Linked DNA regions of Homo sapiens: region 1 is linked to region 2. The links come from fine-mapping of genetic effects on gene expression. Tissue or cell type: whole blood. Region 2 holds a variant in brackets; the other region holds the start of a gene. All regions are shown on one strand. Distances are from middle to middle.

Region 1 (8,105 bases), 90 kb before region 2:
AAAAACCTAGTTCAGGCTGTGAAGGAAAGGGGGAGCTGGACATGCCTCATTCTACCCTCTTCCCTTTTGGAATTTCTGACAGAACAGACTCTTTAAGTTCAATAAGAAACATGTACAATCTATTGTCTCTGAAGCCTGCTATCTGGAGGCTTCATCCACATGATAAAACCTTGGTCTCCATAACCCCTTACGGTAACCCAGAAATTATCTTCTATTGATAGTAACTCTTTCAACCAATTGCCAATCAGAAAATCTTTGAATCCATCTATGAGTTGGAAGCCCCCACTTCCAGTTGTCCTGACTTTCTGAACCAATGTACACTTTACATGTATTGCTTGATGCTTCATGTCTCCCTAAAATGTATAAAACCAAGCTGTAATCTGGCCACCTTGGGCACATGTTCTCATGATCTCCTGAGGGCTGTATCACAGGCCATGGTCACTCATACTTGGCTCAGAACAAATCTCTTCAAATATTTTATAGAGTTTGACTCTTTCGTCAACATTCTAAAATAAAAAGTTTATTTTAAAAAAGAATGAGGGAAAGAAACAGAGGGATGGTTCCCCCTTCTTTACTGTGTGGGAGGTCATGTTTGGAGCTGAGGTGGCCGTCCATTGATTCTCAATATGCCTGTTCACAGCCCTAACCAACCTTGGATCCATCCACTGGATTTTTGTTATGTGACAAAATCAACCTCACTGTTTAAGCTGTTTTGGGCCAGGTGTCTTGCTCGCTGCAGTTGAATGCATCCCAACCAATAGTACTCGTATCATTTTCATGGCCACAGCTGTGGTTTAGACCTTTAGACTTTCATCTCCCTTCCCAGCAATTTGGCCTGCTCTAATATTCCTCCTTCCCAATCTCCTGGCAGCTCTCTTCCTTCTCTAGCTTCACCCCCTGCCTGCATTTCTCTCAACACCCAGTGGCCAGCAACTCTTGCCATTCCTAGGCAGGGCACGTTCCCTCATACTTCCAAGCTTGGACACACTTGATTCCCTCTGCCTGGAATGCGTACTCCTCCATCCTTATTTCTTCCAGCAAATAACTACCCCCGTTCAAGTTTCAGTTGCCAGCCATGGCACAATATGTGGCCAGCAAGATTCTAAGATGTCCCTGCAGATCCCTGACGGCTGGTGTACATAGCCTGCATAACCCTCAGTACTGTGAATATAATGGATTATACTCCTATGATCAGGTTATGTTATGTGACACTGTTGATGTTAAGAATAGATTATCTCAGTGGGCCTGATCTAATCATATGAACTCTCTAAAAGCCGGGTGCAGTGGCTCATGCCTGTAATCCCAGCACTTTGGGAGGCTAAGGTGGGCAAATCACGAGGTCAGGGGTCCGAGACCAGCCTGACCAACATGGTGAAAACCTGTCTCTACTAAAAATACAAAACTTAGCTGGGCGTGGGGGTGGGTGCCTGTAATCCCAGCTACTCAGGAGGCTGAGGCAGGAGAATCACTTGAACCTGGGAGGCGGAGGTTGTAGTGAGCCGAGATTGCGCCATTGCACTCCATCCTGGGCGACAGAGTGAGACTCTGTCTCAAAAATAAAAAAATAAATAAAAATAAAAGCAGAGAGTTTTCTCTGGCTGGTAGCAAAAGAGGAAGTTAGAGAGAGATCTGATGTAGGAGGATGTTTGGCACGCAAGAAGGTCTCTGTCGCTGGCTTTCAAGATGGAAGGGGTCATGTGGCAAGGAATGCAGGTGACCTCTAGGAACTGAAGGCAGGCCCAGGAAATAGGGATGTCAATCCTACAACCACAGGAAACTGAATTGTGCCCCAAAGAAGAATGAGCTTGGAAGATCTTTGCAAGGGCCTCTAGATAAAAAGTCAGCCCAGCTGATACCTTGATTTCAGCCTTGCAATATACCCTGAGTAGAGAACTCAGCCTTGCCCCTGTGCAAACTTCTGATCTGTATAACTGGGAGCTAAAAAACAGACACTGTTTTAAGTCACTAAGTTTGTGGCAGTTTGTTATGCAGCAACAGAAAAGGAACATGCCACATTTCCTCTCTGAAGTCATCTCTCACTTCCCCAGACACACCTGTGACATCTTCCTCTTGCTGCTGTGGTGCCTGATACACATCCCTCCCATGATGCAGGTCACAGTGTGTTATCATTATCCATTTACCTGTCTGCCTTCCTCACAGGATTCTGAGTTCCTGGGCAGTGGGGACTATATAATTTTATCACTGCAATCCCAGGCACAGAGTAGGAAGGCAAAAAAATATTCATTGAATGATGGTTTCATCAATAAAAAAATCCCAATATCACTAATTTGTAATCATATATACTAAAATAACCAAAGATGTCAGAGATTTAATATCTAAGCAAGAGGAAAAGTCACCAATATAAAAGGAGAATGGCGAAAAAGAAAGAATAGCTACTATAACTATACCCACGGGATGTTTCTGAGGAACCCAGAGGTGAATGAAGTCCCCGGGGTGGTAAGTGAGGGAAGGGAGTGGAGAAATGAGCAGCACTATGAGGGGAAAAAATTTATCTCTAGATTACTTAGTAAACAAACACGTTTTTATTGAATGCCTGCTATGTGGTGACCCAGTAACTGTGGAGAACAATATAGATATTTAAGATTTAAATACTATCCTCCGGCGTTCTGAGACCCTCCTTTCTGTGGCATACAGGTCTTAGAATGTTAGATTCAAGAAGGTCTTAGATTTATGCATAAGTCCCCCATTTTTTAAACAAATAGAAGCAAACTGATTTTCCACTGACCTCTGTGTTTCTGAGGTGCACATCCTTGTTCCTGTGACTTTGACACCTCTGTTAATGGGTCTGTAATAAAAATTCCTGGAAGAAACCCAGAGATATTTTGACATTACACAACAGTTTCTCCCTCAGTCTCTGCCCCACAAGTGCCAGCTCCCTTGACCCTCAGAGCCCAAGTTGGGTAGCTCCTTACCTCTGGTTCGGGTGAGTCCCATTCCCATCTCTCTCATTTCAACTGCTCCAGTGGAAATGTGGTCTGGAATATGCATGAAAGGGGTGGATCCAGAATGTACGAAGAAACCAAGAAGAAGCTGAACAGGGAAGAATGGTACAGGAAGTTGTAAGGGGTATTTAAGGAAAGGAGAAGAGATGGGGCGGAAAGGTGCTTTCTGGATCAAAGTAGGGTGAAAACGTCGGGATGCAGGTTAGTCACACCACGGAGGGCCTCACCACTAGTCTGATTAATTTGCATTTTATCCTGTGGGAGATGAGGAGCGAAAGAAAGGGTTTTAGACTCTAGCTTTGGGGGTGGGGTGTCAACTCATGTCTCTGGGCTTAAGTTTCCACATCTGTTAAGCTGGAGAAGTAATACTTGCTGGGCTAACCAATGTACACAACCAGTCATAACCAAGTATCGATGGTGATAAGAACTAAACAGAAAACACAAATAACACTTAGCCAGTCTCCAAGGGGGTGGTTTAAGGTTAGGTGGCAAGCCTGAAGTAATTTCTAAAGTCCCTCAGGAAAAAAATTCTGAAACTTGAGCCACAAATTAAGAGGCAGACGGCTTTTCTCCTTGCAAATGACCTGCCACACAGTCCGTCACTGCCTCTGCTAGCTCTGCTACCCTTGGGCCCTGTCCACAGCCCACGTGGGAGACCTTTTCACGGGATCTACTCGGATGTCTGGGATCTGGCCACTACCGCAGGCTCGAGACAACCCAGGTGCGTATGCGCCGCGCACACGGAACAGCACAGGCTGCCCCGGGGCAGGGGCGGGGGCGGGGCCGAGGCCGGGGCGGAGCCAGGACTGGGAATCCCCGCGCCGTCCGGCCGGTGGGGGCGGTGGCCTGTGTGTGGGCGTGGCGGGCCTCTGCGCAGGCGCCGACCCACTCCCCTGGGCCGGGCGCGCGCCCGCGGCGGGTTCCGCTACCGCCGGGCGGAGGGGTGCGCGCGCACGAGCGAGCGGCCGTGACGTGCGCCGCGCTACGCCCGACGTCACGGGTCCGTGTGTAGTGGCTGCCGGGCTGCCTGCCCTCAGCGGCGGCGCCTGACGAGGGTGCCGCGGCCGCTGGGCGCAGCGTTCGGGGGTTGCACGGCCCGCGGCGGCGACGAAAACAACGACCAGGACGCTCGGCGCCCCTGTCCGCAGAGTCGCCACTCCCGCCTCTTCTCCGGTCTCTAGCGACGCGGGCCCGCGGCTTCCTCCTTTCCTGCCCAGTTCCCGCGGGCCTCGGGGTTGCAGCGGCTAGAAGTGCCGAGGAGCGCCAGGAGGACCCGGCCGGCTGCGAGGATTCACGCGCCCGCCACCCCGCCCGGCCCGGGCTTCATGTGAAAGAGGGACGGGCCTGGCCCCAAGGCCCGCGCCCGACTCCTCGCGCGCCCCTCCGGTCCCCGGGGGCCCTGCGGCAGCCCCCGACCTGGGGCCGCGGTGACAGGCCGCGCTGGGGCGGAGGGGCGGGCTCGGCGGGGGCGGCCCCTCCTTGGGCCTGCGGCTCTCTACGTCCCTGCGGAGCAGCCGGTACGTGCGTGTGTGCGTGCGCGCGCGCTTGTGTGTGTGTGTGTGTGTGTGTGCGCGCGTGTGTGTCGGGGGCCGCGGGCTGGGCGCCGGGAGGGGGGCTGGCGGCGGCCTAAGCGCCGCTCCAGGGGCGGAGATTTCGCTGGGTGATTGCCTAGCTGCGGGAGGGCGGACCTTGGGCCCCCTGCATCCAGTCCTAAAGCCCAGGTCAGCGCGAAGTAGGCTGCTGGGCTGTGTTAGCTGTCAGACACGTACCCTGCAGAGATTTTAGAAGAAAGGTTGCATCTGGTCTTGGGATGAAGCAGAAATGGTACATGCAGTAAGCGAAAAAGTGCTTGTCTTTGCACTGTCACAGTGTGGTAATCTTTTGATGTAAGGTTGTTTCCCCCTTTTCTCTTTACGGAATATTTAGGTAGCACTTAGGGTGCTCTTAGTCTGCGCCCGGCAGTTGTCATGCATTATCTCTCTTCATCTTCCCAGCTCAATGAGGTGGGTAAATTGCCCCATTTTGCAGGTGAAAACTTGAGGCTCAGAGAGATTAAGGCATTTGTCCAAGGTCATGAAGGTAGTAATCCAGGAAGGCTTGGTTCGAATATGCAGATGTCTTTTTGTAAGACTGTATTTCTCGTCTTGCAAAAAATAAATACGTTTAGAAAATGAGACTAACTGGGCAGTTTCTTTAATGGGATAAATTCTAAACACATAGACAGATACAGTTTAGTTTTCCCTAACGTAAGCTCTTCGATATCTTTTGCCAAATCATTTTCTTGGCTTTAAAAAAAATTTAAAAGATGGCTTCAGATACCTTTACTTTTTATGTACTAGTACTGGACAGAAAAAAATTATTCTCTCACAAAAAATAAATACATTTGGTAAAACTGCATAGATCTTGAAAAGTCACAAATTTACTTTTGTAGTTTGACCTTGATGCCCAAAGGGAACTCACAGTTGGGTTATTTGCTTGAGATTTCCTTGTTGCAAAATTTGTTGCTGGATTATGTGGCAATTTAGTGATTTGTTCGTTGTCTTATGCAATCTTTTTTAGTTCGATGTCAAATTTTAATGCGTAGAATATCGTAGGAAGTTTGATGGTGTGATTCTTTTTCATTTGTATGGAGTGCTACTAGTCAGTGTTTATAAGTTAACTGAAAATTCTCATTTTAGCATGAGTTTTGTATTTTTTAAAACTATGGTGAGAGGAAAAAATAAGGAGCCAGAGCTCTGTACTGAAAAAAAGTCGATACATTTCCTTTGAGTAATTGAAGCTCTATGCATAATTGCAAATGTTTAACAAATCTATTGATGCCCAGTTATATTACTCTGTAATTTTCCTAGTATATTATCAAGTTGAAGAAAATTTGTGGTCTTGCAGTCTCTGTGGAGAAAAGGTGAAATTACAAAGTTAACATGTGGATGGTTTACAGATTGATTTGTTGTTTGGTTAAAATATAAACATGTTGAATCTTATTGAATTATGTTGTATATGATATCATTATAGAATGGTTATCCATGTGCCTCTTTTGAGAAACTAGCTGTTAAAGGCTTATCTTAAATAATTGGATTGCATTAGAGACTGAGTCTTATAAGCAATGTTTTAGGGGGAGCTTTTGTTTCTAGTTTACTTTATTGGTACCAAAGGGTTAAACTAACAGGTGCTGTATTAAAATAAAGTCATGTTTGATACTCTGCATTTCCTACAGCGTTGGTTTCAGGTTGATTTTCTCTTTCCCTATAGAATTGGAGCTATTTCCCCCCACCTCCCACTTTTTATTATCAAACAATTTCAAGCATACAGAAAATTTGGTAATAGTAAACCACTTGTATCTTGACCCTCTAGATTAAACATTTGTTGTTATCTTGCCATATTTGCTTTATCTATAGGTACATGTACAGGCATACCTTAGAGAGATTGTGGCTTTGGTTCCAGACCACTGCAATAAAGGAAAAGAAGTGAGTCACATAAACTTTTTAGTTTCACGGTGCATATAGTTATGTTTACAATATACTGTAGTCTATTGTGTGCAATGGCATTATGTCTAAAAAAAGTATATACCTTAATTAAAAAATTATTTATTGCTAAAAATTTCTAAAGAAATTTGAGCCTTTAGGGAATTGTAATCTTTTTGCTGGTGGAGGGTCTTGCCTCCATGTTGATGGCTGCTGACTAGTAAGGATGGTTGATAAGGGGTGGTTGTTGAAGTTTGGGATGGCTGAGGCAATTTCTTAAAGTAAGACATTAGTGAAGTTTGCCGCATCGATGGACTCTTCCTTTCAGGAAAGATTTCACTCTGGCATGTGATACTGTTTGATAACATTTTACTCACCATAGAACATTTTTCAAAATTGGAGTCAGTCCTTTCAAACCCTTCATCAACTAATTGCTTATCACCTATCATCTAAGTTGCTTATCGTTGCTTTATCAACTAAGTTTTTGTAATCTAAGTCCTTTGTTGCTACTTCAATAATATTCACATCATCTTCACTAGGAGTAGATTCCATCTCAAGAAGCCACTTTCTGTCCAGGCGTAATGGGGTCACGCTTATAATCCCAGCAGTTTGGGAGGCTGAGGCAGGAGGATTGCTTGCGCCAAGGAATTCAAGAACAGCGTGGGCAACATGGCAAAATCCCATTAAAAAAATATAGAGGTTAGCCGGTTGTGGTGATTTGGGAAGCTGAAGCAGGGAGAGTGCTTGAGCCGGGGAGGGGAGGTCAGGGCTGCAGTGAGCTGTGGCAGTGCAGACCAGCCTGGGCAACAGAGCAAGACCCTGTCTTAAAAAAAAAAAAAGGCCACTTTGTTTCCTCATCCATAAGAAGCAACTTTTCATCTGTTCAAGTTTTAGCTCTGCTTCTAATTGTAGTTCTCTTGCTCTTTCCGTCACATCTACAGTTACTTCCTCCACTGAAGTCTTAAACCCCTCAAAGTCATCCATGAGGGCTGGAATCAGCTTCTTCCAAATTCCTGTTAATGTTGATATTTTGACCTCCTCCCATGAATCATCAGTGTTCTTAATGGCATCTAGAATGATGAATCCTTTCCAGAAGGTTTTCAATTTACTTTGCTCAGATCTGTCAGAAGAATCTGATCACTGTCTATGGTAGTTATAGCCTTACAAAATGTATTTCGTTTGTTTTTCTTTTTTTAGTTTCACAGTGCGTATAAAGTTATGTTTACAATATACTGTAGTCTGTTAAGTGTGCAATGACATTCTAAAAAAGCAATATATATATATATATATATATCAATTAAAAATTATTTGTTGGCCGGGCACGGTGGCTCACGCCTGTAATCCCAGCACTTTGGGAGGCCGAGGCGGGCAGATCACGAGGTCAGGAGATCAAGACCATCCTGGCTAACAGGATGAAACCCCGTCTTTACTAAAAATACAAAACAAACAAACAAACAAAAAAAACCACTAGCCGGGCATGGTGGCGGGTGCCTGTAGTCCCAGCTACTCGGGAGGCTGAGGCAGGAGAATGGCGTGAACCCGGGAGGTGGAGCTTGCGGTGAGCAGAGATGGCGCCACTGCACTCCAGTCTGGGTGACAGAGCGAGACTCCATCTCAAAAAAAAAAAAAAAAATTATTTGTTGCCAAAAAAATGCTAGAAGAACATCTGAGCCTGGCTCAG
Region 2 (8,097 bases):
TAAATAGAAAGTAATTGATTTTACATAGTTCTTCCTGAACTTTTTGGAACTGAAATTCTGCCAAACATTATCAAAATAAGCTTCCTTAGCTTACCAAGTATTCACAAGGAAATTCTCTTGTACCTCTTTTTGGTTGGCTAGGGGAAGCATGCTGTGAAGCAGCTATTCCTACTTATAGTTGTCTTTGGCTTGGCTTTGACTTCTGCCATGGTTTGGACAGGATGCCATGGTAGGTGTGGGAAGTATCAGGGCCTCCCATCTTCCCATACTCACCTTCCAGAGCTGTTGATGGAAATGAGCTCTTGGGGGAGCCTAGAGATTCTTTTTTCAGTGGTCCTGTAAGCATTCAAGGTTGAGCTTCAGAAAGATGAGGGAGGAGTCATAGCTACAGTAAAGAAAAGAATAGATTTTATCTGTTGCCTGTATACAGTCTCATAGAATTCTTATTTTTCATAATTGTGCATTTTAATTGATAGTCATATGGTATTTTTGTTAATAACAGCAAAGGCATTAAATCAGTACCATTGTTCCTTCTGCCTGATGACTTCTTGTTTGTAACACAATCTGTATTATCAGAATCACTTTAAACCAAAGCTTTTATATTCCCTGTACACATAGCCAAAATAATTAGCACTGTTACTTCTGTCCACTTGTAAGCTAATAGTATAAAAATTATAAAGCAGATACTAGTAGAATTTGTATTCTGGTATATCCTTCAAGGAAAAGGACAGGTGATCAGTGCATTTAGACATCCAGAAGTTACTTCCACTATTGAGGAACTATGTAGACATGAATTTAAGCTTGTACATGTGCCAATCTTGTTAATGTCACTTGACCACTGATTCACATAGACAGACATTAACGTCTGATGCCTCAGGTTGATGGCGAACTTTCTTCCTAGTGTCTTAACATTTATGAACTTATGTTTGACTTGAGGGGCATTTCAGCAAAGCTGTGAGGAAAAGTAGGTTCTGGACTGATGTCTGCTTTGTGCCATAGACATTTTGGAACATAAGGAAGTATCTGCTTCTACTATATGTACAGGACTTGTCCCCAAATAATTTCTGAATCCCTTAATGCAGTTGAGAATCCCTTAATGCAGTTGAGAACAGTAAAGTTCATGACCATACCGAAAAGCACTTTTAAGTTCACTTCTTTTTAAATATTTTTTTAGAATTTATTTTTTAAAAGCATATGTAACTAGTGATGATTTTAGCATTAGCTTTACTTGGAGGGGAGAAGAAACAAAATTACACCTTAAACTCTATTAGATAGACTACAAAATGGATTTGATGTATTCTTACTTTTCCAAAGAATTTTTTCCACCTGGAATAAGAAGAGAGGACTAGTTGAAACATTTGAGCTGGAGAGGCTTATGGGCAATATGAAGTGGGCCAAATTCTTGCAATACACCCTATTCAATTGAAAGTACAGTGTCTAAGGATAAGAATACTTCTTTAAAGACCAACAATTGTTTTAATGCAATCTTAATTAGTAAATGGTTTACATTTTTTCTATTGTTATTGGTTTTAAAATTTGCTACCCTGAATTCTGAAATATTATAAGAGTTAATACCAAAAATACTTTTAATGTCTGACATCTCTTACATTTCACATGGTTCTTTTTATTCATTGTAAATAAAAGTAAACTTGGATAAATTTGAGAATAAACTTTGAATTGTTGCAAACTATGATTATCAATTTGTAAATTTACCCTTTGACATAATAATGTACATTTTTAAATGTAGCCATTAAATTCTCTATATTTAACCTATTGGTTTCTCTCTAAATGTTTTTAATCTCAGTTGAATGCTGGGCAGTTTATAATTATGTACAAAGGGTTTTTTTCCTATTAAGATTGACATTTTTGCACATTTTTGGAAATGTTTAATTTGTACACTGATTTACTACTCTGACCAATAATTGTTGATGAGTGTATGAGCATCATGAATGCGTGCATTGAACTACTGTCTGTGTCTTTATGTTTTAACTTCTTTCAAGATGTAGCCATCAGTTACTGCACTGCTATTACTGACTTAAATGGACCTTTTTGCTTTTACAAACTATACTTATCTATGGTTCTTTGTTGAAGAACTCAGGAGTTCGACATTAATAGAAATTAGAAAATTTTATAATGTATTATAAAATCCATTACTAAGTTGAAAGTATGCTTTTAACTGTGTATCAGGGGATGTATGTTTGTGTGGAGATGTTTTTTTCTGTCTGTAGGCACATGTATATATCCCAGTAAGTTCTTATTTTCATTTCATTTCTACATTTTTATGAACTTGTTTTATAAGGGTACTGTTTAGTTGTGATAATTAAATATATATAAAAGCTTTCTGAGAGATTATTTACTATATGAATATATTTTCAGCTGGCTGATCAAAAGTATTTTTAAAATTTTGTTTTTAGCCATTCAAAATGTATTTGTATTTTCAGAATTGAATGCAAGTCATACTTAGAGCTCAATTAAAATACTCTTGCAAGAAAAAGCATTAAATTCTCTTTGAGAATTCCGTGAAATGCAAATTAAGGGAAAAATAGGTTTTAAGCAGTAGCAAAAACACACCGCTAAAAATGGCCTTTGAATTCTCAGAGCTATGGAAAAATGTGAGAAACTAAATTGTCTCGAGATGTCAAGATTTTTCTATCTCCAGTTGCTATTGGCCTGTCCTACTGTTGTCTTTGAATATTTCCTGTATTCCACCCCAAAAGATTTCAACTTTTAGTTTTTCTATCACTGGGCAAGGTCAGACTGGGTTTATAAAACAATATATTGGCATATTGTGATTCTTTGTAATTGACTATAAATTGGTTTTGAAATGTCCAAACATACGTTGTGTGTCTTTATATTGTACTGTGTGTTTTAAGTAACTGGCAGAAAAAGAATTGGAAATGAAATTTCCAATCAGACAATGTAGTATTAAAGAAAACTTTGTTTTAAATATGCGGTACCATGTAAAATTACTCGTGTTAGGAATAAAGTCCACTGTTGAAGTTGAATGTCACTAAGCTTATTATGTTAAAAGGAACCAGTGTGATTAGGAAAACCTACCAGAAGCCAGATACAGTGTGGTACGTGCAACATTTCATGCACATTTTGATTTTGTTTGTCATTCAAAATTGTGCTTGTAAAAATGTATACAATTTCTGAGTTTTATAATTTCTAGGTACTTGTTTTTTCTTGCTGGTAAATAGCTTTTTTT[T/A]AAAAAAAAATCTAATATAAAAGAAACCATGTTTATATTTTGTTAGTGATCAATGACTTTGTTTATATGGAAATTTGTATATTGTTGGCACACATTTTGTTGAGGTTTACGTGCATGAAGGCCTGCAATAATTAGCACAATGAAAACTGCTTTTTCTTACATGTTCATTTTTTTGAAAGATTGTGGTGCAAAGGCTTACTCTAATAAGTAACCTTCTGGACTATGGAATGAATATAAATGAATGGCACTTTGAGTGTTAATAAAGCTAATATTTATTTCCACTGTGATTGGTTTTTCCAAATCTATTCTTGGACACATTTTATTTACAGTTATTCCCTCCTTGCTTGAGTTGAGCACTCTCTAGGAAACCAAGCGCAGACAAATCTAAAAACAATGAAACTAAACCAAATCTTTCCAGTATCTAAGTCTATAATGTTCCACCCAACTTGTAGTATATCTTTGGCTGGACATCTTGATTACCTAAATCAGAACTAATGATTAAAAACAAACACAAACCCTACTATCAAACCTACTGAGTATAAGGAATGGTCTCTCACATGGTGCTGGAGATTATTTATTTATTTATTTATTTATTTTGAGACAGAGTCTTGCTCTGTCGCCCAGGCTGGAGTGCAGTGGCATGATCTCGGCTCACTGCAAGCTCTGCCTCCCGCGTTCAGGCCATTCTCCTGCCTCGGTATCCTGAGTAGCTGGGACTACAGGCACCTGCCACCATGCCCAGCTAATTTTATTTGTATTTTTAGTGGAGACAGGGTTTCACCATATTAGCCAGGATGGTCTTGATCTCCTGACCTCGTGATCCATCCGCCTCGGCCTCCCAAAGTGCTGGGATTACAGGCGTGAGCCACTGCGCCTGGCGGAGATAATTTAATACTTTGGTATAGAGGGCAACTTAACACAACCTCAGAATTGAAACCTCAGAATCAGAATCAGAAACCTCAGAATTGGCCGGGCATGGTGATCCCAGCACTTTGGGAGGCCGAGGTGGGTGGACCACTTGAACTCAGGAGTTTGAGACCAGCCTGGGCAACATGGTAAAACCCTGTTTCTACAAATAATACAAAAATCAGCCACGTGTGGTGGTGCATGCCTGTGGTCCCAGCTACCCAGGAGGCTGAGGTGGGTGGGTCGCTTCAGCCTGGGAGACAGAGGTTGCAGTGAGCTGAGATTGCACCACTGCACTGCAGTCTTCATGACAGAACGAGACCCTGTCTTAAATTTCAGAACCTTGTATATCCTCTGACCCACCAATTTATACCTAGGAATTAACCTGTGGAAATAGATTGTGAATGTTTTAAGTTGTATCTATAAAAGCCCAAACTTAAAACTCTAAATGTCCAACAATAGGGGCTATTGTAACAAAGTACCACACATTAGGTGGCTTATAATAAAAAATTTATTGTCTCACAGTTACGGAGGCTAGAAGTCAGAAATCAAGGTGTGGGCAGGACCATGCTCCTTCTGACACCCATAAGGGAATCTTTCCTTGCCTCTTCCAACTTATTTTTATATATTAGAAATTGGGTCTCACTATGTTGCCCAGGTTGGCCTCATACTTCTGGGCTCCCACCTCAGCCTCCCAAGTAGCTGGGACTACATGTGCTCCATGGCGTTGTGTCCAGCTGCCTCTTCCAACTTCTGATAGCATCCCTTGGTTTGTGGCAGCATAAATCCGATCTCTGCTTCCATCAGCACGTGGTGCTTTTTGTGTGTCTATTGACACAAGTGTGTGTGCTCCCCTTTTTATAAGGAGACCAGTTACTGGATTAGGCCCACCCTAATGACCTAATTTTAACTTGATTACCTCTATAAAGACCCTGTTTCCAAATAAGGCCATACTCTGAGGTAGTAGGGGTTAGGACTTCAAAATATCTTTTTGGGTCAGGCACAGTGGCTCATGCCTGTAATCCCAGCACTTGGGGGGCCAAGGCGATGGACAACTTAAGTCCAGCAGTTCAAGACCAGCCTGGGCAACATGGTGAAACCCCGTCTGTACAAAAAAATACAAAAAGCCAGGCATGGTGGCATGCCTGTAATCTCAGCTACTTGGGAGGCTGAGGAGGGAGGATCACTTGAGCCCAGGAGGTTGAGGCTGCAGTGAGCCCAGATCGCACCACTGCACTCCAGTCTCGGCAACAGCAAGACCCCGTCTCAAAAAAAATAACTTTTTGAGGGGTGGGGGACACAATTCAACCCATAGTCTGTCCTCTGGCCCCTACAAGTTCATATCCTTCCCACATGCAAAGTACATTCACCCCATCTCAACATCAACAAAAGTCAGTCATTCTAGCATCAACTCAAAGTCCAGTATCATCTAAATATCAGTTCAAATCTCATCACCCAAATCATCCACATCAATTGACTCTGGGTTAGGTTTCCTGTTGGAGCAAATTTTCTTTCTATCTATGAACCCATGAGAACAGACAAGTTATCTGCTTCCAATTACAATGGTATAGGCAGAGGATAGACACATTCCATTCCAAAAGGGAGAAATGGGAAGGAAAAAGACTTGGAGGTGCCAAGAAAGTCTGACACCTAACAGGGCCAATGACAGGATTTTAAGGCTTGAGAATAATCCTCACTGGCTTGATCCTCTGTCCTCAGGGCCCACTGGGGTTGCAGCCCCGCACCCTCAGAACTGAGGAGGTGGTGGCCGTGGGTTCAAACCCAAGCCTGTCCCTTTCAGTCCTGTGGTGGCGGAAGCAGCCTCACTGGCCTCTGAACTGCCCCTGCCAATCCCTTTCCTACCTGTGGAATCCTGGGAGTCCAACAGCCTTCCTTCATTTCATCCCATCTATGTACCCTAGTCAAAACTGTCCAGGTTTCTGTGGAGATGGGTGATTGGGTCTATAAGCCACACACCTAATCTCTTGCAAATAAATGGTTGTCCACATCCTTAGTGTTTCTCCAGAGCATACTTTCTCTCTCTCTTTTTTTTTTTTTTTTTTTTTTTTTTTTTTTTTTTTACAATGTGAGTATAAGAATGATCCAAATCTTCAAGTTCTGGTTCCTTTTTGTTGAATAATTCCACCTTCAGTGTATCTCTTCTCACATTTCACTATAAGCAATAAGGAGAAAGCAGGCCTCAGTTTTTTTTTTTTTTTTTTTTGAGACGGAGTCTTGCTCTGTTGCCCAGGCTGGAGTGCAGTGGCGTGATCTCTGCTCACTGCAACTTCTGCCTCCTGAGTTCAAGAGATCCTCCTGCCTCAGCCTCCTGAGCAGCTGAGACTACAGGCGCGCGACACCACGCCCAGCTAATTTTTGTATTTTTAGTAGAGACGGGGATTCACCATATTGGCCAGGCTGGTATTGAACTCCTGACCTTATGATCCCCTGCCTCGGCCTCCCAAAGTGCTGGGATTACAGGCGTGAGCCACCGCGCCTGGCCCAGGCCTCACTTTGAACCATCATGTAGAAATTTCCTCAGCAAAATGTCCAAGCTTATCACTTATAAGTTCTACTTTCCACCCAACAGAATACAATTCAGGCAAGCTCTCTACCACTTGCCTCCAGTTTCAATAACATATTTCTCCTTTCCATCTGAGCCGTCACCAGAATCACCTTTAATGCCCATACTTCTACCAAGGCTCTTCAAGACAATAGAGGCTTTTCTATCATGCGCCTCAAAATTCTTTCAGCCTCTACCGATTACCCAATTTGAAAACCACTTCCCCATTGTTAGGTATTTGTTACAGCAGTACCCTATTCCCCGTACCAAAAATCTGTGTTACGTTCTCCAGAGAAACAGAACCAAGAGGCCCACTGAGCAAGCGAGATTGATTGATTGATTTTAAAGAATTGGCTCATGCAATTGTGGGGGTTGGCAAGTTGGGAATTCAGGTACGAGTTGATGTTGTAGTTTTGAGTCCAAAGGCTGGAAACTCAGTCAGAACTTTCTGTGTTGCAGTCTGGAGGCAGAATTCCTTTTTCCTTGAGAAACCTGTCTTTGCTCTTAAGGCCTTCAACTGATTTGGATGAGGCCCACCCGCATTATTGAGGGTAATCTGCTTTATTTAGGCTGAGACATGAGAATGGCATGAACCCGGGAGGCGGAGCTTGCAGTGAGCTGAAATCGCGCCACTGCATTCCAGCCTGGGCGACAGGGCGAGACTCCGTCTCAAAAAAAAAAAAAAAAAAAAGAAAAAAATTTTTTTTGAGACGAACTCTCGGCCTGTCGCCCAGGCTGTAGTGCAGTGGTGCAATCTCAGCTCAGTGCAGCCTTTACCTTCTGGGTTCAAGAGATTCTCCCATCTCAGCCTCCCAAGTAGCTTAGACTACAGGCGTGTGCCACCATGCCTGGCTACTTTTTTTTGTATTTTTCGCAGAGATGGGGTTTCACCATGTTGGCCAGGCTGGCCTCGAACTCCTGACCTCAAGTGATCCACCCACCTCAGCCTCCCAAAGTGCTGGAATTACAGGCGTGAGCCACCGTGCTCAGCCAAATTTTTTTTAATTAAAAAAAAGAATTCTTCCTTACCCATGGACTCAGGTCACATTCTCTCTCTCTCTCTCTCACACACACATTTATTGCCCACATGGCTTCATTAAAATTTAAGTTCCAGAAGGATGAGGCCTTTAATTCGCGCACTACACAGGTGCTCAACACACAGTATTTTCCTTCAGTTGTAGAGAAATGAACAGTGGAGGACCCCCGCCGCTGGGTCGCACGAGCTAACAGATCGGCGGTCGCTGGCTCTCCGCTCTTCCAGCCACCCACATCACGGCGCCTAGAGGCGGGACATCCTGTGTGGACAACAGGGAGCTTCCGGATTGAGCCGGAAGTCCCCCCAGAGCGGATGCCGCGGCGGGCCTGTGGGAGCGGGGTCATCTTCTCTCTGCTGCTGTAGCTGCCATGGGCAAAAGAGACC

What was found. PIP is the estimated chance that this variant, and not a neighbour inherited with it, causes the effect.
Region 1: it holds the start of MAP3K2, and the variant in region 2 is fine-mapped to the expression of MAP3K2 in whole blood (TOPMed, PIP 0.99).

The regions. Positions count from the first base shown.
Region 1 is chr2:127,383,827-127,391,931 of GRCh38, reverse strand. It overlaps MAP3K2 (mitogen-activated protein kinase kinase kinase 2), which reads left to right and starts at 3,957. Exons shown (of 17, transcript NM_001371910.2): 1 at 3,957-4,480. MAP3K2-DT (MAP3K2 divergent transcript) reads right to left here and starts at 4,494. Exons shown (of 4, transcript NR_187129.1): 1 at 4,380-4,494; 2 at 2,934-3,051; 3 at 2,747-2,821. It overlaps LOC124906074 (a long non-coding RNA gene), which reads right to left. Exons shown (of 4, transcript XR_007087227.1): 3 at 6,377-6,408; 4 at 5,771-5,852. RefSeq lists a silencer at 3,668-4,537.
Region 2 is chr2:127,294,066-127,302,162 of GRCh38, reverse strand. ERCC3 (ERCC excision repair 3, TFIIH core complex helicase subunit) reads left to right here and starts at 8,019. Exons shown (of 15, transcript NM_000122.2): 1 at 8,019-8,097. The coding sequence starts at 8,082. MAP3K2 (mitogen-activated protein kinase kinase kinase 2) reads left to right here. Exons shown (of 17, transcript NM_001371910.2): 17 at 1-3,495. The variant T/A (reference allele first, on the strand shown) is at 3,209.